Regions from separate parts of the Homo sapiens genome. Here regions 1, 2, 3, 5, 6 and 7 are each reported to be linked to region 4. The links are microRNA targets in miRTarBase. Many come from high-throughput screens and were not tested one by one. Region 4 holds a microRNA gene; each other region holds the end of a gene's coding sequence.
The links. Region 4 holds the annotated microRNA hsa-miR-4673 (UCCAGGCAGGAGCCGGACUGGA, at 1,833-1,854, opposite strand). A microRNA usually pairs through its seed, bases 2 to 8, with sites in the 3' UTR of a target mRNA and lowers its output. Matches are read on the target gene's strand: a 7mer-m8 pairs with bases 2 to 8, a 7mer-A1 pairs with bases 2 to 7 and ends in A, and an 8mer does both.

Region 1 (3,265 bases), not on the chromosome of region 4:
TGGTGGAGATAAAAAGTTTCCTTCTCAGCTGTTGATACGGTGATGAATATGAGGGGGAGCCCACAGATGGTTGTAAGTTCACCCTCAAGTTCTAGTTTTTACAATGGATCCATGGTATTTATTAAGTTCATATTCATAAAGAAGTTAATTAAAACAAAAGGAGAGCCACCCACGGAGATAAGAGTAGGTCACAAACCAATGAATATGACTGATCCAGTTACAAGAAAATAAAGCTGATTGATGTAAATGAAAATACTAATTGGATAGTGCAGGTGACAGCAGCGAGGAAGCTGTGAAGGTGTCTGCTCACGCAGCAGTTGGGAAGGTTGGCCTGAGGCTTTCAAAACCCAGAACGGTTTAGGATCTCAGTCACCACCTCTGGGAACCACCATCATCACTGTTCTTTTAATGAGGGGATCTCCAGTCCCCGCCCTACCTTTCGGCCTCCCCCGCGTGTTGAGGGGTGGGGGCTGGACAGTGACTCTGGGGCTGGGATGTGACTTCGTGCTGGGCCCCCCCAGGTGAAGCTGTTCATGCAGGACCTCTCTGCCATGCTGGCCGGCCTGGGTCAGGCTGAGCCTGCAGCCCCTGCCTCCTAGCCCTGACACAGGTGAGCAGCGGGAGAGGGAACCCCTGAGAGACCCTGAGATAGGAGGGCCCACATTTCCAATGGGGTGTGGACTGAGTGGCTCTTCCTGAATCCGTTTCCTCATTGGGAAGATGGGAGGGCTGTGCCTGTTCAGAGTGCTGTGGGCCTGCCATGAGGGGCACATAGCAAGCACTCCATAAATGCAGGCCCTGATGAGGAGGTGATGGGAAGGTCAAGGGGCTATGTGTGGGGCAACTGCCTCTAAAATGAGATCAGACCAGGCCCTCCCTGCCAGGGTGGTTGGGGCATGAAAAAAAACTCTTTGTCAGGTCTCAGAACAGGGTCCATGCTAGATGAGAGATCACCAAGGCCCCCTCCACTATGGACTCTGCCAGGTGAGGGGCCCAGCCTGAGAATCCAGCTGCTGGGGCTGCCCTTGACCTTCTCAGAACCTCAAACAGGGGGTGGGTGGCAAGAAGACAGAGGACAGGCCAGGTTCTGACCTCCAGGTGTGGAGGGGCCGCGTTAACCTCTTCATAGCCAGAGGGGAGCAGCTGTGTCCTTGCCCCCTGGGCTGGGCATCCTGTTCCCCTCCCCCAGCCCACTCCCAGCTGCAACCATGTCCAGTGGGAGGAAGGGGGACCAACTCCCGCCTCTGGCACCTGGTTTGTGCTCTGAGCTTCACTTTCCTCATCGCTAAATGGACAAGGCAGCAGAACTCACCCTCAGGAGACCCGCAACTCCTCTGCCACGTTAGCTGGGATTTTAGTACCTGGGTCTCTCCATTCCAGTTCCCCAAGTAGACCGCACTCCTGGCCACCAGCAGTGCTCAATAAAGATTTATTACATTAAAAATTCCATTGCCAAACCCTGAGGCACTCAGGGCTCTGACCGGTGCAGCCATGACCTCTGAACCCAGAACACATGGAAGCAGCAGCAGCTGAGTTGCCAACTCAAGTCTTGGCCTGCCTGGCTTTGCTGGCGAACTCCTGCACACCCTTCAAGGCCCTGTTCAAATGTCTCTGTCTTAGGCTGACGCAGCTGCTGCCCTTCTGTGGCCATACAGTGCTCCTTTTCACAGATGATGGCTCCTGCAGGGAGTGCCCCCAGTGCCCAGCACAGGGCCAGGCACACAGTGGTGCACGGGAACGTCTGCTGATGCCCACCCTAAGGCCAATCAAGGAGCCACGGGGCTGGGTCCTGGTCCTCACATCCTCTTCCGCATCTTGCCCTTCTTGGAGCGGGCACCCCGGCCGAAGGCGCCCTGCTGCAGCTCCTGGACGCGGCGGCGGTTGCGGGCAGAGAGCTGCTTGAGGCCACCACGCTGCAGGAAGTGCAGCTTCTGGGCCCGGCGCCGCTGCTTCAGGATCTGCTGCTTGGTCTTGAGTTCCGGGCGGACTCGGCCTGCAGGGGTGCCTGGGGCGTGGGGCCGGGATGCACCTGCTGGGACAGGGATTCAGGGAGCTCAGCTGTTGGGATCACTCCCAAGATCCCCTCCTCCCAGAAGCTTGCAGACTCCTCCCCTGCCCCTACTCCTGTTCTGTGCTTATTGCTGTGGCCCAGTGTCTGTACACAGTAGGTGGCTAATAAAGTTTTAGGCAGCCTCATGGAGTGGTCAATAACACGGGGCCAGAACCGCTGGGGTTCAAATCCCAGCTGTGACCTCTTGGACCGTGGGCAAGAAGTTAACGGCTCTGTGCCTCAGTTTCCCCATCTATGAATTATAAATCACAGCACCTCCCTCATGGGTGAAGAGTAAATGCATTTCCATGGTGTAAAGTGGTCAGAATTTCAAGGCCTGTCCCATAGTGGGAGCCTTTTGGGCATGACTGTTACTATTAAAAATTCTCCAACCAAGGAGTGTATGTCTCCACAGCACACCTACGGCACGCCAGGCTCTGAGGCCCCCCATAGTAACCGATACAGACCTCAGCCTCTGTCTCCATGGACACCATGCTCTAGGCTTGTTAGATGAAAAAAGAGTGTAGATGAACCTTCCTTTAGGTGGGAGAGGAATCAAAGAAGGCCAGAGAGGGAGAGGGACTTATCTGAGATCACACAGCAAAGCAGCAGCAGCAGCAGAGGTCAGCGACCCTGCCCCAGCCCCACAGGTGGGCATCAGGTAGTCCATTCTTCTAGTTCTCCGGGAGGCAAGCACCACCCTCCCTGGCTCCCACTAAGCCCTGTGTCCTCCTCCTCCTCTTCCCCATTCATAACAGCAGCCTCCCCAGGGCTCCTAGAGGGATGACCATTAAGGTGGTCCCAGCTGTCTCCAATGGAGCCAGGGTGCCTCGCAGGACCTATCACCTCCAATGAGGACAGCAAAGGAAGAACAGCTGCTTTTTCCCAAAGCCCACAGGTCGCCCCCGTCTCCCCAGCCCCTGCACGCCCACTGCACGGCAATGCTCGCAGCAGAAGCTGCTGTTTCACCTAGGTAAAAACAGGCTGAGAAGTGAGGTGTGGGTGGTCCCCACCCAGCCATGCTGACAAGGAGACACTCCCACAGATGGGAGAGCTGGAGAGGGAGGAGCCACAGAGAACAGGCCCAGGCAAATGCACGCAGGCTCACAGAGACACCCAGGGGAGGCAGTGACCAGCCCCAGGAGGTGGAGGGACACAAGCAGGGGCTAAGGCCATCTGAGAGAGACCCAAGACATGGTCCCAAACTCCCCTCTC
Region 2 (3,265 bases), not on the chromosome of region 4:
TTTGGGAGGCCGAGGTGGGAGGATCACGAGGTCAGGAGATCAAGACCATCCTGGCTAACATGGTGAAACCCTGTCTCTACTAAAAATACAAAAAATTAGCTGGGCATGGTGGTGGGCGTCTGTAGTCCCAGCTACTCGGGAGGCTGAGGCAGGAGAATGGCGTGAACTCGGGAGGCGGAGCTTGCAGTGAGCCGAGATCGCACCACTGCACTCCAGCCTGGGTGACAGAGCGAGACTCCGTCTCAAAAAAAAAAGAAAAAGAAAAAGAAAAAAAGCAACCAAAAAAACAATGGCTAGCCATTTACTTATGATCCAGATTGGACTCTAGTGGGCCAGTCCTATGTGGCCACTGGCAGCCAGTAAGGATTCCCTGGCCTATGTCTGCTGGAAGGGCCCTTGGAGAGCCTGGCTGAGGGGGCCTTCATTCTGGCCAGCTCTGGGCTGTGTGGCGTTGGGTGCCTGGCTCTCTGAGCCTCTCGCACCTCCCATCCCCACCCACGGTGTGCAGAAGGCAGAGGGCTAATGTCTCTCTTGCTGAGTCGTTGTGCAAATTAACAAAAATGAGTCTGGCACCAAAATGGCCCCCACACTTGGAAAACAGGCCAAGAGGCATCCACCGACCTGCTGACCCCTCTTTCCCCGCAGGCCCAACAGCGCCCTGGAATCCTGCTCCTTCGCCCGCCACAGTCTGCTGCAGACGCTGTACAAGGTCTAGACTCAAAGCCTCTCCCATCCCTTGGCCTGGACCAGTGAGCTGGGGAGGGACTCGGATGAACTGAGGCGCAGCCTACGCCATTGCCTTGGACAGGACTCTGGCCACAGGCAGGGCGGGTCTGTGTCCCATGTGTCCTGTCAGTCCCCTGAGTATGTGTGTGGGTGTGGCGCATGTGCAGGTCTGTGCCTCCTGTCGGGATTTGGGTTTTAACGTCTTCTGCTGGCCCAGCCCTGCTCTGTTGTGGGGAGTTGGCCCCCAGGGGAAAGGGCTGTGAGCTGCTCCGCCATTAAACTCACCTCCACCTGAGGGCGCTCTGCTGATCTCCGCCTGGGCCCTGATGGCCGTCCCCACCCACCTGCCTTCCGGCCCGGCTCCCTGGCGGAGCCAGAACCCAGGGAGTTGCCCGCGTGCTGTCCTTCCCCTCTGTGTTGTGATTGGGTTGTTTCCTGCCCTGCCTGGGGCTGCTTCTCGTCACCAAGCCCTGGTCCTGCGGCAGCTGTCACCCCTACCATCCATACCACTGTGCTGACCGCTCAGCCTGAAGAGCAGAGAATGCCATGGGTGGGACTGTGGGGGTCGGATCGTGGGGTTGTTGGCAGAGGGCAACCCTGGGCCCCACACCGTGTGGACAGGCAGACACCAGATTGTCCAGGAGCAGGAGCTGCTGGGACTGCGCTGGCCCCGGACCTAGTGGGCCTTCTCCTGGCTGCTGAGATGTCGTCTGTGACTGGCCTGGCTGGAGGGGGAGTGTTGACAACCCAAAGCTGTTCTCCAGTCTGGGGAGGGAGAGGCAGGGTCCCCAATGTCCGAGCTGCATCTGGACGCTGCTCTTAAAGGACCTCCTGGGGCAGGGGAGCGGTAGGGTCTGGACTGGGCAGATGCTGTATGACCTCCCTGAGCACCCGTGACTGCCCCATGCTTTCCCCTTTGTGCTCTGTGTGTGTCTGGGCTGTGCCCGGGGGCTTCACAAATAAAGTCGTGTGGCAGCTTCAGAGACTCAGAAACTCTCACTGAAAGCGGGATAGTCTCGGGGGCCGTTGTACGTGGAGTCCCACCTCGGCAGAGCATGCGGCCCCGCAGCAGTCTGTGGGGCAGTCAGCCCTGCAGAAGGGCCCGGCCTCGGCCTCAGGCCACTACCTGGGAAGTGGCAGTCCTGAGTGGGGGCCCATTTTCCTGCCTGGCCACACCTCACCCAGCACCCTGCCTTTGGGCTGCAGCTCGCTTGGCTTCTGCGTTGCTCCTTCACTATGGAAGCCACCTCCCTTGGGATCCTTTGCTCCACTGCCACATATGTGAGGACAGCCCAGCCAACCTTCCTTACCTCCTACCCTACACCATGTATGTGCTTTGGGAGCCCATGTCCCCCACAAACGGCCTCCAAGAAGTCCCTCCAAGGTTTCTTAGAGGGCAATATTTTCTCATTGGCAGTCGGCCACGTAGGTGACCAGGTGGCAGAGGATACTGCTGGCCCTGTCCCCTGTCTTCTGTGTGAGTTGATACGGTAGGGGGTGGGTGTGGGGCTGGCATTAAGTTCTGATGCCAGCTACAACGTGGATGAACTTTGAAAACATGTTAAATGAAATAAGCCAGACACAAAAGGACAAATATGATTCCATTTAGATGAGGCATCTAGAATAAGCAAATTCAGAGACAAGAAGGTAGAGGTTGCCAGGGCTAGGGGAAGGGTGGAATAGGGAGTGAGGCTGCAAACAGATTCTCTGGGATGATGAAGATGTTCTGGAAATGGAGAGTGGTGATGGTTGCATAACATTGTGAATGTACTTAATGCACTGAATTGTACACATAAAAATGGTTAAAATGATAGATTTCATGTATTAATATATTTTACCTCAGTTAATGTTTTAAAAATTAAGCAAAACTATAGAGCTTCACCCGGGTGTGGTGGCTCACGCCTGTAGTAATCCTAGCACTTTGGGAGGACGAGGCGGGCAGATCACTTGAGCCCAGGAATTCAAGACTGGCCTGGCCAACATGGCAAAACCCTGTCTCTACTAAAAATACAAAAATGAGCTGGGTGTGGTGATGCATGCCTGTAGTCTCAGCTACTTGGGAACCTGAGGTGGGAGGATCACCTGAGCCCAAGAAGTGGATGCTGCAGCAAGCCGTGATCGTGCCACTGCACTCCAGCATGACTGACAGCGAGACCCTGTCTCAAAAAAGAGAGAGAGAGCTTGTAGGAGATAGTGTAAGTGAGTATCTTCAAGGCCTTAGGAGTGAGGAAAAGATGAATAAATTAAGCTGTATTTAACCTCCTTTGCCATTATCGTGGGATGTTCACACAATGGAAATGATGTAGCAGTGAGAACAGGTTTCTGTTTATCAAAATACTCATTAAGGAGTACAAAGGCAACTTACAGACAGGGAGAAAATAATTGCCTAAACTCTCTCTGTATATATATATGGGTGGGGGGGATAACTTTAATTTTTTTCAAACAGGGTCTCATGTTGCCCAGCTTCTATCTCGGCTCACTGCAGCCTCTACCCCCCGGGCTCAGGTGATCCTCCCAGAGAAACATAATCACAGTGTGA
Region 3 (3,252 bases), not on the chromosome of region 4:
CCTGTCCCCATCTGTGGGGGAAGGAGGAGGGGCTTCAGGGTCTACCCCCAAAGTAAGCAGCTTCCCTCTCCCCTCTGGTGGTCCCCTCCCCAGTCCCTAATATTAGCCTGGGGCAGAGAATTGGGAGGGGGGAGGGGACGAGGGCCCACTGTCTCACCCAGCACGTGTGCCCCCAGCCCAGTCTGAAACAGAGTGTGTGCCCACAGAAAGTCCTTTTCAATAGCTGGGTGGGCGCACAGCTCTGCCGCCTTGAAGATGTGTTGATGTTAGGGAGTGTGAGTGTCAGAAGGAAATTAGCAAGCATCCAATCCAACCTCCTTAGGTTGTAACTGAGGAAACTAAGGCCCAGAGAGACAAAGGGAAGTTTCTAGTGTTGCCCACTTTGTCAGTGAAGAGCCCAGACTGGAACCTGGGACACCAGCTCTAGTTCTATCCTGGCCTCCCCACTGACTCCCTCCCACTTGCCAGCCTTTCAGGCCAGTCTCAGCAGAAAGAATGAAAGACTGAGACTAAGAGAGGAGTGAGCTTCCTAGACCACCCTAGCTACCTCCAGGCCAAAGCCATCTTCCGATGAATTCTTGGTTTTCACCCAGCCATTGGAGAGAATGGGGCAGAAGTCTCAACTTCCTGTGGCTATCAGTAACTAGCTTTCCCCCAAAATCCTGACTCAGATGTACTTTCCCCACTGGTGAGATCTCCAGCCTTTAGCCCTGGAGACATTTTCATACACTGGAGCTACTGAGTTGGACGCTGTGATACTCATTGCTGCTAACCCTGAATCAGGTTATTCACCATTTTTGCAGCATTGGATGTGTCTTGTCTCCTCAGCTAGATTGTGAGCTCCTCAAAGCTATTGTCTCTCCCAGCGCCTGCACCGGTAGGCACTCAATAAAGATTTTATAGAACACCAGGATATTAGTGCTGGGAGAAATCTCCTGCCAGGAGCCACTTCCCCCACTTTCTGCCTGCAGGTGGCCAGAGCAGCTATTCCCGCATGAACCAGTCGTGCTAGAAGCTCTTCCTCAAGCCAAAATCTGCCCGCCTGTTACTTTTACCCATTGGTCCTGGTTTTACCCTTGTAGCAGCAATACAGACTCAAATTTCCTTCACTGTATGGAATTTCTTCAAATATGTGACAAGTATCCTGTCCCCCTTACCCCGGTCTTATTGATACGAGGGCATTGAGACTGGGTTATGAATGGAGGTGAGGGGGAGGCTTACAGAGCAGTGCAAATGAGGGAACAGTGGGGGGTGGGGCACAAAGGAAGGTGGCAGAATTCCAGCTAATCTGGTGTCTTCCACATAGGGAGAAAGAAAGTTGGGTTTGGGTTGGAATTTGGTGGATTTTCCCATCTCCATTCTTCTGTCCTCTTATCTCTCTGCTCCCTTTGGGGTTCAGGAAAATTGTGAGGTGGTGCAGAAAGACATACTGTATCAGGTCTGTGTCTCCCAGCACCCCCATCCCGACACCCCACAAGGTTCTCAGAAGAGAGCATAGAACACGCTGGACAGAGAATATGAATCCTCACAACATCTAGGTGAGGTAGCAGGACCGGAAATGGGGCTGCACTGTTCTCTCTCCCCCCTCAAAGGAGAAGGAAACTGAGGCACAGAGAAAGAAAGGGACTTGCCCAAGGTTATCAAAGAGTCAGAGAAGCAGCCAGAGACCAGGAACACGGGCACTCCCAAACCAAGCTGAGGGGCCTCCCAAACCTAGCTGATGTGACCTCAGAGCCAGGGCCATCTCTGAGGGACTGTGTCAGGACTGGAGACATCCCGGGGGATGCTCAGCTTCCTCCCCAAGGTCTGCGGTATTGACCTCAGCCCTTAGTGCTGGCTGAGAGCACTGTGGCCAAGACCAAGCAGCCATCACCTATGCTGTCTTATCTGCATCATCTGGTTAATTTTTTGCATAGGGAGGCAGTGGCTACGTTGCCTCTTTGTGACAGGCAAGAGCACAGCCTAAAGGAAGGAGTTGGAGTGACCATGGGTCTCTCGGCTCCCAGGAACACATTGGGTACCAGTAGCTGAGGGCCGAGCCCTCCCTGGTTTAGTGTGGAACTGGGGGGATATAGCTGGGGCCATGAAGTTGAGCCCTGGGCCTGGGGAGCCCCGCCTAGATGAACTCTCCCTTCACCTGCTGGAGCTCTGCTGCCTTCCTCACCTCCGCTGAACCCTCAGAGGCCAGGATAAGACCCCATCAGCTCCTTTTCCAGCTCTCCCTCTCCTAGACCCCCTTCCACACTCCGTGCACTGTAAACATGAGAAAAACAAAAGCCAAGGTAAAAACAAAAACAAAAATAAAACGAGAACCCCCCCCTCCCGCCTCCCAAATTGGGTGAAAAACAAAATCCTTTTTCACCGTAAACAGAATTTGGCTTTTTTTTTCTTCCACCTTTGATTCCTTTTTCCTTTTCTCTCATAAAGACGGGAAGATTGGGGCTGTCGTTGGTTCGGTCAGGCACCAAAACAAGAAACTCAATGAGAAATATTTGGTGCGAATTCGGTAATAGCGACATGTCCACCACAAGATGACTAGAGCACCACACACAACATTTTTCTTAAGCTAACATGCTCCGGCTGCCATCCACAGAAATAGCTAGAGACCCCTACATGGTTCCTACGTGGTCGAGAGGTATATATACAATCCTTCAGAGGACAGGATTGAGGGGCCCGTCTGTCAGCTAGTGCCTTCAGGATCCCACCTGGGTTCTCCGCAGCCTGGGCCCCTCCTTCCCGCCCTTGCGCTGGGCACCGCCAGCTCCCTCTCTCCTGCTCAGCCAGGCGGATGGGGACAGTCGCCATTCTGGAGAGGTGGGTCCTCCCCAACCCCCTCCTCTCCCTCGACACCGATACCACCAACTCCTCTTTCCACAAAATGTGCTTGCAGGCTTTTCCTCTACGTCAAATGGCTCAGAAGGCAAAGTTTGGCTGCAAGGGCTATGGCCGTGGGGGGACCTGGTGAAGGAAATGGGGTGTCCACTGGCTAATTCCTCCCTCAGCTGTCGGCTCCCAGTTGTGTCTCAATGTCCACTCGGCAGATGGGGCATTTCTTGCTCATGGCGAGCCACTGGTCCACGCACAGTTGGTGAAAGAGATGCATACAGGGTAGGCGTCTGGAAGAGAGGAGGGAGAGTCAGAGGCCCGGCAAGAGCTGAGGGACACTGAGCGGAGCAGGGACACACACCTAGGACTCCTGGGGAACTGCCCGGCTATGGAGGGAGGCTGTGGCTGAGATGGGAAACCATGAAG
Region 4 (3,265 bases):
AACTCCCCAATCTGGTCCAGGCAGGTGGCGTCGTTCTGGCACGGGTTCGAGACGCACTCGTTGACGTCGATCTCGCATCGGGGGCCCGTGTAGCCCTGCAGACACTGGCACTCGAAGGAGCCCAGCGTGTTGATGCACTTGCCCGCATGCTCGCAGGGGTTGGCACCTGGCGAGGGCACACGGGTGAGAGGCTGCTCCAGGCACCCTGGCCCCTGCAACACCTCACTGCACACCACCCCCATCGGACTGGCAGGGTCCCATCCCCCATCTAACTGGGCACCCCCTGAAGCCAGAATCGACTTCTCATCGGTTCTGGGGCCAGGCTGCCACCCCCACCTGGCCGCACCCCCTGTGCTGGCACCTACCCAGCGAGCACTCATCCACGTCCTGGCTGCAGGCCGGGCCCGTGTACCCCGAGGGGCAGGTGCAGATGGCCTTGCCATTGACAGGGTTGGTGTCGCAGTTGGAGCCCTCGTTACAGGGGTTGCTGATGCATGCGTCGTTGAGGTGGCACAGCAGACCTGGGCAGGCAGCGGCGGTCAGTGGGCACGGCCCCTGGGCCAGGCATGGCACACCACCCACGGCTGGGGTCCAACCCCACTGACACCCCAGGAGGAGCTGCCCGCCGTGACCCCGTCGGGCATCCCGTGACACTTGGGACGTTCCGGGGGACTCACAGCGACCACCGGCCTCCCTGACCAGAAAGGCCCTTTCAGGTTATCCTGGGTGCAGGAGGGCCACAGTCCCTGGGTGAGGTCACACAGCTCAGGCCTGGCCCATGTGAGCCCCCTGCGCCCACCTGGGCCTCAAGGCACTCACCTGTGCGGCCATGGGGACACTCGCAGTAGAAGGAGGCCACACGGTCATGGCAGGTGGCGCCGTGGAAGCAGGCGGCGCTGGCACAGTCATCAATGTTCTCGCTGCAGTCCTCACCAGTCCAGCCGTTGACACACACGCAGTTGTAGCCACCGTGGGTGTTGTGGCAGGTCCCGCCGTTCTGGCAGGCATTTGGCATCAGCTGGCACTCGTCCACATCCTCGGTACAGTACTGACCTGCAGGGAACAGGAGCTGTCGGCCCCGGGCAGCTGCCACTCCCTGAGCTCCCTGTCCCCTAAGACGCAGGGTGGCAATGCCGCCCCCTCCAGGAAGCCTTCCTGGGCTGACTCCTCCACCCACCGCCAGCCTAAATCACTCCTTCCTCTGCAGGCCCAGCACCATGGAGTCTTGCCTCCTCTTTGTGCTCTGTGGACACTGCTGCGTCGGGGTGCACCTTTGCCCGTCACCCCACCAGAGGGTAATTCCCGAACACAGGGCCTGTCTGTTCATCCAGGCATCCCTGTGACTGGCCCAGGAAGCGTGGCCTGAGTGGGGTGCTGAAGGCCCTCAATGCCAGGACACCCCACTGGGCACAGGGGCTGCCTGGAGCCAGGTTGCAAACGGCCCACACAGACCAACCAGGGCCCTGTCTGTGCTGACCCCCGAGGTGAGGGGCACCAGACCCTGGCCACGGGAAGTGGGGCCCCCATCATGTTGTCCTTCTCGGCCAACCCTAGTCTGCCTGGCCTGGGACAGGGTCTCGGCTGCTCCCCGCTATGCCTGTGAGTGCAGTTTAGTAAGTGGGTAGCAGCCCCGCCCCGGCTACCCCGCCCTGCGGCGACCCGTATACGCGCCTGTCCACTCTGGCGGGCAGCGGCAGTTGTAGGTGTTCACGCCGTCCACACAGGCACCCCCGTTCTTGCAGTTGTTTCCTGGACAATCGTCGATATTTTCCTCACAGTTCTGGCCGGTGAAGCCTGCCGCAAGAGGGGCCGGGTCAGCCTCTTCCCTGAGGTCCAGTCCGGCTCCTGCCTGGACCCCCGACACACTGCTCTGGACACAAGAGCCTGGCCTCCACGGCCCTGCCCTGGGGCCCCCGGGGTCTGTGCCCGTCCCCTGCCTCACTCCAGTGCCCAGAGGGACACGCCCTGCTTGAAAGAATCATTTTGGACAGGACTGGCTAAACAGGGACTCAGGAACACAGGGTTCCAGAAGATTCTGTCACAAAAACCCTTGGGTCTCTTTTAAGAGGTTCCGGCAGCTCCTGCACCTGGGTGCCGCCTGCATGCTCAGAGCTCCCTACAATGTCTCCACAGGGGGGCCGCACACCCCATCTTCAGGGGCTGACACTGGGGCCTGGGCTCTGAGCAGCAGGGGGACATGGGGCCAGCAGGCTGCTGGCTGGGGCAGGGTGGGCCCCTCGCAGCCCCAGGGAAGCTGCAGAGATTCAGATGGCCCATCCTCCCTGGGGCAGAGCTCTGGTGCCCACCTCCTCCTCCCCCTCCTCCTCCACAGGCTGCCAGGGCCCCCTCCCCCGAGGTATGGCCCCACCCAGGCCTCCAAGGCAGCCAGTTAGCTATTAATCCACTCAACTCCCGCTGGTTCAATGATCAACCCAGAAAGGCGCGTTCGGCAACAGCCAAACCTGCAGCCGGTTACTAATTGCCGCCCTCCCGAGATGCCTTTGAACCCCCGTTGCCCTTGGAGCTCCCACCTGCTCGGCCCCTCCCTCTGAGACATTGCCCCACCGCCACCACCCCGTCCGTTCTGTCTGTCTGCTGGACCGGAGCAAAAGCAGGCAGCCAGAGACAACCAAAATCCAAAATGCAAATCAGCTTGGGGAGCACCCAAAACCAGACCCCAGCCCTGGCGCGGTGGCTCACGCCTGGAATCCCGGCACTTTGGGAGGCTGAAGTGGGTGGATCGCTTGCGCCCAGGAGTTCAAGACCAGCCTGGACAACATGGCGAAACCCCGTCTCTACAAAAAAAAATACAAGAAGTAGCAAAGCGTGGTGGCGCCGGCCTGTGGTCCCAAGCTACTTGAGGGGCTGAGGCAGAAGGATCGCTTTAGCCTGGGAGGTCAAGGCTGCAGTGAGCTGAGGGCACGTCACTGTACTCCAGCCTGAGTGACAGAGACCTGTCTCAAAAAAAAAAAAAAAATTCAGAGCCTGGAGCCTGAGTCCCGGTCCCACTCATGTGTGGGGCCCTGCACCCCGGCTCCGAGGCAGATGGGGCCCCTGGCTGGGCCTGCGACCCCAGGGCTGCCCTGCAAAGCACTGGCTGAGGCACACAGTGGGGGAGAGGGCGGGAAGCCAGCGAGAGCCCCGTGGACCCCAGCTGGACCCTCTGCGACGTAGCCTCGGCCAGCGACCCCACGAGGAGACAGTGCTGACGTGCCAGGCAGGCTGTGCGACCCCAAATCCCAGCCAGTTCCCGGGCCTGCAGAGC
Region 5 (3,261 bases), not on the chromosome of region 4:
TTTTGTATTTTTAGTAGAGATGGGGTTTCACCGTGCTAGCCAGGATGGTCTTGACCTCCTGACCTCATGATCTGCCCGTCTCGGCCTCCCAAAGTGTGTGAAGGGAACAAGGAGATATATTCTGGGTGAAGGGTGATGCTGGCTGCAGATGGTGAGCCCTCAGACTCACTAGTGGACATGGAAGATGAGGAAAGGGGCCCCAGCATGGTCAGTGGGAAGGGCTGGGGACCTTCAGGTTGGGCCCACAGGGGTAGGAGACATTACCGTGGGGCCACGGGGGTAGCTGGAACAGGGAGGTCAGCGCTGTGGAGACTACAGCCGTGTGGAGGGGCGTTCGCATGGAGATCCCCAAAGCTGCAGATGATCACACGTGAACACCAAGGCCCCAGCTGGGGCAAGAGCTGGAATACCCCCCTGCAGCTCTGCTGCTTCCTCCACAGATGACACCTTTGAGGCCCTGTGCATCGAGCCGTTTTCCAGCCCGCCAGAGCTGCCCGATGTGATGAAGCCCCAGGACTCGGGAAGCAGTGCCAATGAACAAGCCGTGCAGTGAGGACCCCCAAGAGGCCCATTTCCCCCAATAAAAGAGATTTGGGAGTCTGCCTGGTTGCTGCCTCTTTTTCCCGCCCCTCCCTGGGATGGGTCCCACTCCCTGTGGGCTCCTTTTGGGGCTTGTGCTTGGCAGTTCCTGTGCTGTCCTGTCTCCCAGATCCTGAGACCCTGGCTGAGAACTTGGCCCAGCCTGCTGCTTAAAGGCACCATGGGGACCTGGGTTGCCCTGAGACCCAAGCCATTGTTAGCAGCTAGCCAGCCACACCAACCACGCCAGGGGGAGGAAAGGGAAGGACTGGGAGAGACACAAAGACCAGAGCCAGCCTCAGGGACAAGAGATTCCAGTTTTAGGCCTTTCTCCTTCTAAGTGCCCCCCACCCCCATAGCCTGCATGTCCACTCCCAGACGATGGCCAAGAGCAGAAACACAAGCTGGAGCCAGTGTCCTGGTTTGACAGCATGTTCAACGAGGGAACCCCAAGACGGACCCACACAGGTCCACCCACGCTGGGGGCTGTAATCACGGAGGGAAGTGGCTGCCCCCTTAACACACCTTTAATAAACAGTCTACAGACCCAGTTCCTGCATTTCTCATTTTTATTTGACAGAAAAAGTTGCTCTTGCTGTACAGATTTTAAAAAACCAAAATGCCTTTAAGAAACATGAAAAGTTGGGGGGAGGGGTTCACAACCTCATGGGGGACAGTAGGGACCAACTAATTCCAACTCCTGCCCCTTCCTTCCAAGAACACCTTATACAACCTCCAGTCCCAACCACCATCACAATCACCCCTGGGAACTTCTGGATACAAGTGGGGCCATGCCTCCCTGGCCCTGACTCCAGGCTGGGGTATCCTGAACTGTATCCTCCCCTCCCCCAACTCCCATCTGCATTCCCTCCCACCCCAAACCCCCCAGAACACATGAACCAGGAAGAACTCACGGAGATTAACATTTCACAGGAACAAAGAAAAAAAAAAGGGGAGGGAAAGGGAGCCCTCCATCCAAGGGCTGCCAAGGTTCAAAGGAGAGCAGACAAGGACCCTCCCACGGCTCTGCTGGGGAAGAAGGGACACTCCTTGTGGCTCCAGAGCATTGGGTGTGGTGGAATCCCCCAAAGACAATTTATGGAGACCTGCAAGAGAAGATATGGGTCAACAGGGAGTTCCCACCCCAGCCCTCAAGGCCAGTTTCTGGGCCACTCCCAAAATGGGGCCGCCACCCACCACCACAACTGGCTCCCGGAAGGGGGCATCAGCCTTCCAGGACACGCACCTGGAGGAGCGGTGTCTCATGGGCCGAGGGCTAGGTGTCTCCCTCCTGCGCTTGTGGCTGGGGGAGCGGCTGTCCCCACGCTGGCCTCTCCGGGAACCCCGCTCACTGCTGCTGCTGCAACACAGGACAGACATCAGGCCACAGGGTGGCACCACCTCAGGCACCACATAGCCACAACCGCAAAGCTTTCTTCTTTGTAGAAAGCAGTGGCGGCCAGACAGGCTGGGTGCTGACACCTGCAGTTGGCCTTACCTCTGCTGGTCCCGTGGTGAGGGCTGGGGCGAGGGACGGCGACGCTCCACAGGCGAGTAGCTGAGGGACCGAGAGTCCCTGAGGGAGTCTATTGGCTTCCGGGGGCTGCGGGACCTGGGGAACACAGTAGGACCCAATAGCACCACACCCTTTCAAGCACACGGGCCAGCACTCAGGACCACCCGCCCAGGTCCTGACCACCAAACCTCACACCACACAGGGCCAGCCTCAGACCCACCTTTGTCCGCTCACTCACCCATCCGCCCGCACACCATCCACCGAGTGCCCAGTGGGCAGGCACAGGGTGCAGCGGGGGATGCAAAGATAAAGACAGTCCCTGCCCTTGAAGGAGCTCAGTGGTGAAGAAAGGCACGCACGGCCCCGTGTGTGGGAAGCAGGGCTGGATGTGCGTGGCTCTGGGGACCCAAGGGAGGGGGACATGGGGCAAGGCAGGGAAGGGGCAGGGCAGTCTTCTCGAAGGTGCTGTTTTGAGCGGAGTCTTGCAGAACGAGGAGTTCACCAGGCGGACAAGGAAATTCCAGGCAGAAGGAACAGCATGTCCAAAGGCATGGGCTCTCCTTAGACTGCAAGGCGCTGGGTGTGGCTGGAGCACAGGGCATGTGTGGGGGCGGGCAGGAGGAGAACACAGGGCGGGCAAGGCCCGTTGGTGAAGAGCCTCACACGCCACTCCCGCAGAGGTGGGGCTTTGTCCTGCAGGCCACAGGGCGTCCCGAAGGATTTGTGGAGTGGAGGGAAGTAGCCAGATGTGCGTTTTAGAAAGGTCCCTCTGGCTACATGTGGAAGAGAATGGCGTGGAGACGGGGAGACAGGGAGGAGGCTGTGGACAGAGTCGGGAGAAGATGATGGTGGCCAGACCAGAGCCCTGGCAGTAGCAACAGGGAGACAAAGCTAGAACCCTGGGAACAGGCTATGTGTTGAGGGAGGGAGAGGAAGAAACCAAGGACCCCCTGGTCCTGGCCTGAGCGCCGCTGTGGATGGCGCAGCCCTTCGCCAGAACAGGGTGCAACGAGCATGGGGAGAGGAGAGCAAGTGCCTCCTCCCCCACAACCAGATGCCCAAGGCCACGTGAGACACCCAGCGGGGAGCTCACACCCCAGGGCCCCTTCTCTGGACAAGTCACTCCCCCACCCACCTTTCAACTCAGGCAAGACAGCACTCACCTC
Region 6 (3,265 bases), not on the chromosome of region 4:
AGCCTCTGTTGCTATTAAAGGGAGTGACTTGGCAGTTGTTCTCAAGTCTCCACTGGAGCACTACTGACTCTGGGTAGCTGCCTCCTCTGTAGTTCCATCAGCATAAGAAGTCTTCTAACAGAATGCTTATCAAGGTTTAAAGACAGTTACCTCAGCTAGGTGGACCTGTAATCCCAGGACTTTTAGGAGGCTGAGGCAGAAGGATCACTTGAGCCCACGAGTTCAAGACCAGCCTGGGCAACATAGTGAGAACCCTTCTCTACTAACAGTTAAAAAATTAGCCAGATGTAATGGTGCATGCCTGTATTCCCAGCTACTGGGGAGGTTGAGGAAGGAGAATTGCTTGAGCCCAGAAGTTGGAAGCTGCAGTAACCTACGATTGCACCACTGCACTCCAGCCTGGACAACAGAGCGAGACCGTGTCTCAAAAAAACAAAAACCAGTTAATTCTGTCTCCGCACAGTGGTTCCAGATGGGCCGCGTCTTGCAGGAGACTTTGAGATTTCTAGTAATTTCTTCCTAGGTGAGATTTTCTTTTTAGGGATTTAGTAACTTCACTGTCTGGTTGATATGTGCAATTAGTGTGGCATCCTGGTCTTTGGGTAGGGGCTGAGTTACCTAGGCTTCCCTTTTTTGACTGGTTTCCCTGGCTTGCTGTCTTCCAGGTGGCTTTGGCTGAAGCCTAATTCCACAGCTCCTTGTTTTTTGAGAGAGACTGAGAGAACCATAATCCTTGCCTGCTGAACCCAGCCTGGGCCTGGATGCTCTGTGAATACATTATCTTGCGATGTTGGGTTATTCCAGCCAAAGACATTTCAAGTGCCTGTAACTGATTTGTACATATTTATAAAAATCTATTCAGAAATTGGTCCAATAATGCACGTGCTTTGCCCTGGGTACAGCCAGAGCCCTTCAACCCCACCTTGGACTTGAGGACCTACCTGATGGGACGTTTCCACGTGTCTCTAGAGAAGGATTCCTGGATCTAGCTGGTCACGACGATGTTTTCACCAAGGTCACAGGAGCATTGCGTCGCTGATGGGGTTGAAGTTTGGTTTGGTTCTTGTTTCAGCCCAATATGTAGAGAACATTTGAAACAGTCTGCACCTTTGATACGGTATTGCATTTCCAAAGCCACCAATCCATTTTGTGGATTTTATGTGTTTGTGGCTTAATAATCATAGTAACAACAATAATACCTTTTTCTCCATTTTGCTTGCAGGAAACATACCTTAAGTTTTTTTTGTTTTGTTTTTGTTTTTTTGTTTTTTGTTTTCCTTTATGAAGAAAAAATAAAATAGTCACATTTTAATACTACTCTAGTTAGGACAGACTTGTGCTTTTATCCTGACTAAAAAGTTAAATATTTAAGTCACATACATGGTAAAGATCTAAGTTTCATTTTCCACATGGATGACCAGGAACCTGGTCTTGTTGGAGCTGGCATAGGAGGTTCTACTGTCTTGTCGTCCACTCTTGTCCCTCCCTTCTGTTATCAAAGTTAAAGCGCCTCTTCACTCAAAAGGGCTTCAAAATGTAAATGGCTCTAGAGTTAGAGTGACTGTTTGCTCTTCTGCTTTCTGGAATGCAGATGACAGTATGGAAAGAAAGAATAATGATTCTATCTAATAGGAAAGGATTTCTTCTTTCTTTTTTAAAGAGTGGGTGGATTTTCTCCCTTTTGTTTTGCTTTTATTTTCATGCTACTAACATATCTTCAGAAGGAAATGGCAACTAGTAGATCAGTAAAATTACGAAAACGATGCCTGCAAAATTTGAAGGAATGCAATTCTGATTTGCCATTTATCAGGGAAAACTGAAAGCATTTTTCTTATAACTTTTTTTCTTTTTCTTTTTTTTTGGAGGGGGGAGGCAGGGTCTTGCTCTGTCCCTCAGGCTGGAGCTTAGCTCAGTGCAGCCTCCAACTCCTGGGCTCAAGCAATCCTCCCACTTTAGCCTCCTGAGTAGCTGGGACTACAGGCGTGTGCCAGCGCGCCTGGCTAATTTTAAAATTTTTTTGTAGAGACAGAGTCTCCCTCTGTTGCCCAGGCTGGTCTGGAACTCCTAGCTTCAAATGATCCTCTCACCTCGGCCTCCCAAAATCCTGGGATTCCAGGCGTCAGCCACTGCTCTCGGCCCTCTTACACCATTTTGTTTGATTGTCTAGTCCCTGTTTCTTTTTCTTTCTAATCCTTATTCATTTAAGCAAAACCATACATTATCTTTTCCAGTCCTTTCTTGTATTCTTACTGTTTTTTTAAAATAACTTTTTGCCTTAATAGCTCATTGTCACTAATAACTTCTGTGTTCTCCCAGGCAGTGTTATAACAGAAGGGCAATGAAAACATTGGACATGACCATGAGTGCTTCCTTTCCTTAACTCTAGGTTTGTAGTCTGTTTTAAATTAGGATTAGTTCCTGCATTCTGAAATACATTGGCCTAGAACATTTTATCCCAGGCATTTTTGAATAGAAAACAGTTGCGTGCTTTTATTGAAGATTGTTAAAATAATCACCATAGTAACTTGATATGTTAGTATTTTTCTTTTTCCTTTTAGTATGTTTCAAGTGCAGTAATCGTACTTGTCTATCCAGTTTCTATGTATGATACGAGTTGCTTACACGATGCATGGCTAACTTGTTAATTTAGTTTTCTCCTTAGAGACTTTGAGACCCTTAAGAGACAAGATTGAGAAAGAGCCATGTGGCTTGGCTCTAGAAACGTCATTATCATTAGGACCATCAGATTTTAGATTAAGCTGCTATTGAATTAATAAAATCCCAATGAAGCAGAGTTATAGGGATAGATTTATAGCTGGCAGAGTGGTATCAAAGGAGAAAAACAGTGAAAAAGCCAATTTCACTGGTTCGTTCAATCCAGCTTGTTGCTAATATTAGTTACCCTTGTTTTAATGACAGAGAGTGGCTGGAATCTGTAGCTAGGGGAGGGGCAACACTGTTAGATGTGAGGAAAGGAAGTGCCAAAAATGCCTGGACAGATGGCTTGTCCCAAGGCCAGGACACACACTTTAAAATCCAACATTCACCTAAGCAAGTAATTCTTAAAGATCTTACAGAAACGCAGAGTCAATCAGGTTTATAAAGGAAGGCTGAGGGGAGAGAGGAGGCCTGGGGGCCTGGACGAAGAGGCCTAGGACCTGAAGAGACTCCAGCGAGTCTCGGGAAGCCCAGGGGACCTGTCACCATCTGGGCACTTCCCAGGCTCAATGCTCAGCCAGAGTTTGCTGGTGGACCTCAGGATTCG
Region 7 (3,265 bases), not on the chromosome of region 4:
ATGACACGCGAGGCAAAGGCAGCCTGGGGCCATGGGGGACCGGCAAGATTGGAGAAAACAGGGAGAAAGCAGCTGCAGCCTCTGTCCCCAATGCCGACGGCCTGAAGGACTCTTTGTATGTGGCCGTGGCCGACTTTGAAGGAGACAAAGACACCAGCAGCTTCCAGGAAGGGACAGTGTTTGAAGTCCGGGAGAAGAACAGCAGTGGCTGGTGGTTCTGCCAGGTCCTGAGCGGAGCCCCTTCCTGGGAAGGGTGGATTCCTTCCAACTATCTCAGAAAGAAGCCGTAGCCGACTCCCTTTCTGCCTAGAGGGCCCGCTGGTCCTTGCTGGCTTTACCCACGTATTTAATACGCCTCTTAATTTATCATTCTCCACGCAGCTTCCAAGGCAGACAGACTCTGGGGTACTGTGACTTCTTGCCTCCCATGGGTGGAGAGTGAGTTTCGGACACCTCGGGCGCCCCTGGGCCTGATCCCTCCTATCACAGCATCACTGGAGGCTCAGAACCCACAGCCTTTGCTTTCTGTCCATGTCAGCATCCCTGCCTTAAGAGAACTCCTCCTGGCCAATGGCATTGCCACCCAGCAGTGGGACCAAGACTCTCCAAGACCTCCAGGACTGGATCCCATTGCCTGGAGAAACTCCAGCAAGGGTCTCTCATGGCTTGGACATGGCACAGTAAGGGGCAGCCAACCCAGTCCATGATGACTTTTGCTCCAACTTCTTCATGTTTCTAAAAGCCCAGTGGCTTTATTCACTCCTCCTAAATTGCCTGCTACCAGAAGGAACTTCATCCTGAAGAAATGCATTCCATTACCAGTTCCAGGGAAAGTGTCCCCTTCCCCAAAGCCTCAGGCCCGTGGGCCTCTGAGGTTCCACTGGATGCGGCTCCCCCAGGAGTGGGCCTGGAGATCCGCTCAGCCGCCCTGCCTCCCACCTTCTATCTTGGGACCGTGGTCAGCCCTGAAGGGTGGTTCCAGCCCCGCGTATGCTGCGCTTTGCTGCTGCAGGCTCCGGTCCCTCCAGGGCTTTTCAATGAGAGTTCCCACCCCAACTTGGAGCATTTCATTTTTGCCTACCTAAAGCAAGAATCTCAAAGTTTGTTTGAATAAGAGGCCCATTCACAAGTCGTGCCCTTGTGAGCACCCCTTTGCTGAGTGCCTCGTGGGTGCCAAACACTGTACTTGGCGCTTTGCATTCATGCTTTGACCCTCACAACCTCCCTTTATAGATGAGGAAATTCACGCTCCATGTGCCCAAGGACACACCAGCCAGGAGGAAGAGGGAAGAGGATTTGAGTCCAGGCCTGCCTGACTTCAGTGCCTGTGCCCTCCCCTCTGTAAAAGACAAACCAGGCAGGGAAGAGATAGAAGCTGGCTAAGTGGTGGCCAAGTGGCTTCATTGTGAGGGGGGTGAGGGGGCATTCGTGGCTGCTCCCACACCCACCATCCCTCCAGCCCACAGCAGCCTATACCAAAGGCTGCCCTGGACTCAACAGCTGCATCTCCATGACAGGAGAATGCCAGGGTCCTGGTGGTTGACACAGAGCCCTGTTCCCTCTTCTAAGCTGTTGCCCCCTGGGGAATAGAGCTTATGGAGCAACGGGAGCTGAGGTGGCCTCGAGGGCCAGCCTGGAGGGCTCTGAGCATAGCATGCAGCGGTCCCATAGGGAGGCAGGTAACCAAGGGCCAGGCAGAGCTGCTTCCTGTGCCTCTCCGGCATTTGTAATGTTTTTTTCTTTTTTCACGCACTGCCAAATCTGTTTTCTCCCTTGAAGAAACCCAGGGCAGATGTGGTCATCTGTCAAACTGAGGTCTGGAGAGGCATGACTAAATCACTGCAGAAGCAAAATCAGGACCCAGCATTTCTAGCTCCCAGCCCAGAGTAAGAGAGCAGAGCAGAACCCCTTCCCATTCTACCCGACCGAGGCAGCCCTGCCCTGCCCTGCCCCGCCCCTCCCCACCCTGCCCTGCCCCAGAGATCTCCAGTTCACAGTGTTCATCAGGCGAGATACTTTTGGACCCACAAAGCCAGTTTTTTGGGGGGATGCTCAGTGTCTACCTGCAGTGCCAAAGTTTTGCTTGAACAGCCCTCTTCTGCCGCGCCTCCCAGCTCCACCCCCTATCACGTGGGTGCTGGCTGCTTCTGCGTGAGGAGCTTCCTCTGATCACCTGTAGCATCTTTAGTGCCTTCGTCCAGTCGGCCTGCAAATCCCATTTCCCAGAGAGGCTTGGGCAGGGCCCACTTGCCACTTGGCCCTGTGCCCAGAGCGTTGGGGGCAGATGGCAGCCAGGGGAAGAAGGGAGGTGGGGAAGGGCCGCCACCGCTTGAGGGTCCCCTCCCTTGAGAGGAGGCCCCATGGCAGTTTTCCTGAGTTCTTGATCCACTTTGGTTTAAACAACTTTTGTGAAGCTATGTGAGATTTGACTGCATTTCAAAAGACAAAACACATGTTTTTTTCTGATTTGCTCTTTGCCTTTCAGCGACGCTTTCAGATACTTTGTGAGTGTCTACTCTGTGCTAGGTGCTGAGTAGACTGGGATGTGTGTGGCTCCATCCCTGGCTGGAAGAGCTTTGAGTCCTGTCTGCTGACTTCACTGAAGGAGTTTCTCTCTTGCTTCATTCCTTCCTCCCGGGGGTCAGCTGGGTAGGAGCAGACTTGCCCTGCCTTCCTCTAGGCAGAAAGTTTTCCTGCAAATGAAAGAATCTGCCATTCTCTTTTGCTATGATGATGATGATTATTCTGACATGACCCGCGGGTACTGAAGCCACAGTCCTCTCTGTTCACTGTTCTCTCCTTGAGTCATATCTATGGCCTGAGGACGTCTGTATCCAGCTCCTTTTCCTACAATGGTAGACACTTCCCCAGGCAGTGGGTGGGTCAGGGTGGCCAGTCACTCTCCTAGCTGTCCTTGCCTGGGGACTTAGATTTACCCCATCCAGGACTGTGGTCGCTATTCTGTGAGCGATTGATGGCGCATATGCAGAACTCCCCTGGAGTCATGGCTCTAGAAAGTGTCCAGGCCCATCGTGACAATGGTGCCAAGCACCGGGCTGGTGACCAGTGCCTAAACACACACGCTCCTTTAATCCTTACGGCAAGCCTGTGAGGCGGATAGGACCAGCCCTGATCTATAGTGAGAAAATTAAGGTTCAGAGGGAGAAGGTCCAAATAGTGGCCAAGCTGGGACTGAGATCTCGAGTTTGGGTTTGTTTGGTTTTGTTGTTGTTGTTCTTTCCCTCGTGTCCATGACTTTTCTCTG

Region 1: miRTarBase lists CFAP73 as a target of hsa-miR-4673. Seed matches in the 3' UTR shown: 7mer-m8 at 2,003-2,009.
Region 2: the mRNA of RANGAP1 is a reported target of hsa-miR-4673. Seed matches in the 3' UTR shown: 7mer-A1 at 740-746, 7mer-m8 at 1,168-1,174 and 7mer-m8 at 1,890-1,896.
Region 3: miRTarBase lists ARK2C as a target of hsa-miR-4673. Seed matches in the 3' UTR shown: 7mer-A1 at 549-555.
Region 5: miRTarBase lists ELOB as a target of hsa-miR-4673. Seed matches in the 3' UTR shown: 7mer-m8 at 601-607.
Region 6: the mRNA of TMEM248 is a reported target of hsa-miR-4673. Seed matches in the 3' UTR shown: 7mer-A1 at 756-762, 8mer at 2,989-2,996 and 7mer-A1 at 3,136-3,142.
Region 7: the mRNA of SH3PXD2B is a reported target of hsa-miR-4673. Seed matches in the 3' UTR shown: 8mer at 632-639, 7mer-A1 at 906-912, 7mer-A1 at 1,632-1,638 and 7mer-m8 at 2,916-2,922.

Annotation. Positions count from the first base shown.
Region 1 is chr12:113,157,081-113,160,345 of GRCh38, forward strand. CFAP73 (cilia and flagella associated protein 73) reads left to right here. Exons shown (of 8, transcript NM_001144872.3): 7 at 522-610; 8 at 1,621-2,196. The coding sequence ends at 599. DDX54 (DEAD-box helicase 54) reads right to left here. Exons shown (of 20, transcript NM_024072.4): 20 at 93-2,029. The coding sequence ends at 1,797. It overlaps MIR7106 (microRNA 7106), which reads right to left and starts at 2,097; the gene lies at 2,033-2,097.
Region 2 is chr22:41,244,053-41,247,317 of GRCh38, reverse strand. RANGAP1 (Ran GTPase activating protein 1) reads left to right here. Exons shown (of 16, transcript NM_002883.4): 16 at 646-2,539. The coding sequence ends at 715. Among named protein-coding and RNA genes, the nearest start is that of CHADL, 4.8 kb to the right of the region's middle.
Region 3 is chr18:46,456,383-46,459,634 of GRCh38, reverse strand. ARK2C (arkadia (RNF111) C-terminal like ring finger ubiquitin ligase 2C) reads right to left here. Exons shown (of 8, transcript NM_152470.3): 8 at 1-3,116. The coding sequence ends at 2,999. Among named protein-coding and RNA genes, the nearest start is that of ARK2C, 120 kb to the right of the region's middle. RefSeq lists an enhancer at 712-1,501.
Region 4 is chr9:136,517,772-136,521,036 of GRCh38, forward strand. MIR4673 (microRNA 4673) reads right to left here and starts at 1,855; the gene lies at 1,797-1,855. NOTCH1 (notch receptor 1) reads right to left here. Exons shown (of 34, transcript NM_017617.5): 5 at 1,672-1,794; 6 at 820-1,053; 7 at 366-521; 8 at 1-166. All of the region lies in intron 1 of LOC124902310 (a long non-coding RNA gene), which reads left to right.
Region 5 is chr16:2,769,282-2,772,542 of GRCh38, reverse strand. It overlaps ELOB (elongin B), which reads left to right. Exons shown (of 4, transcript NM_007108.4): 4 at 441-1,129. The coding sequence ends at 553. SRRM2 (serine/arginine repetitive matrix 2) reads right to left here. Exons shown (of 15, transcript NM_016333.4): 12 at 3,259-3,261; 13 at 2,078-2,191; 14 at 1,826-1,939; 15 at 1,131-1,685. The coding sequence ends at 1,676. Among named protein-coding and RNA genes, the nearest start is that of ELOB, 6.4 kb to the left of the region's middle. RefSeq lists enhancers at 1,859-1,998, 1,422-2,124, 2,125-2,828, 2,829-3,261.
Region 6 is chr7:66,954,837-66,958,101 of GRCh38, forward strand. TMEM248 (transmembrane protein 248) reads left to right here. Exons shown (of 7, transcript NM_017994.5): 7 at 666-3,265. The coding sequence ends at 686. Among named protein-coding and RNA genes, the nearest start is that of TMEM248, 35 kb to the left of the region's middle.
Region 7 is chr5:172,335,394-172,338,658 of GRCh38, reverse strand. It overlaps SH3PXD2B (SH3 and PX domains 2B), which reads left to right. Exons shown (of 13, transcript NM_001017995.3): 13 at 1-3,265. The coding sequence ends at 290. Among named protein-coding and RNA genes, the nearest start is that of UBTD2, 53 kb to the right of the region's middle. RefSeq lists an enhancer at 1,901-2,762.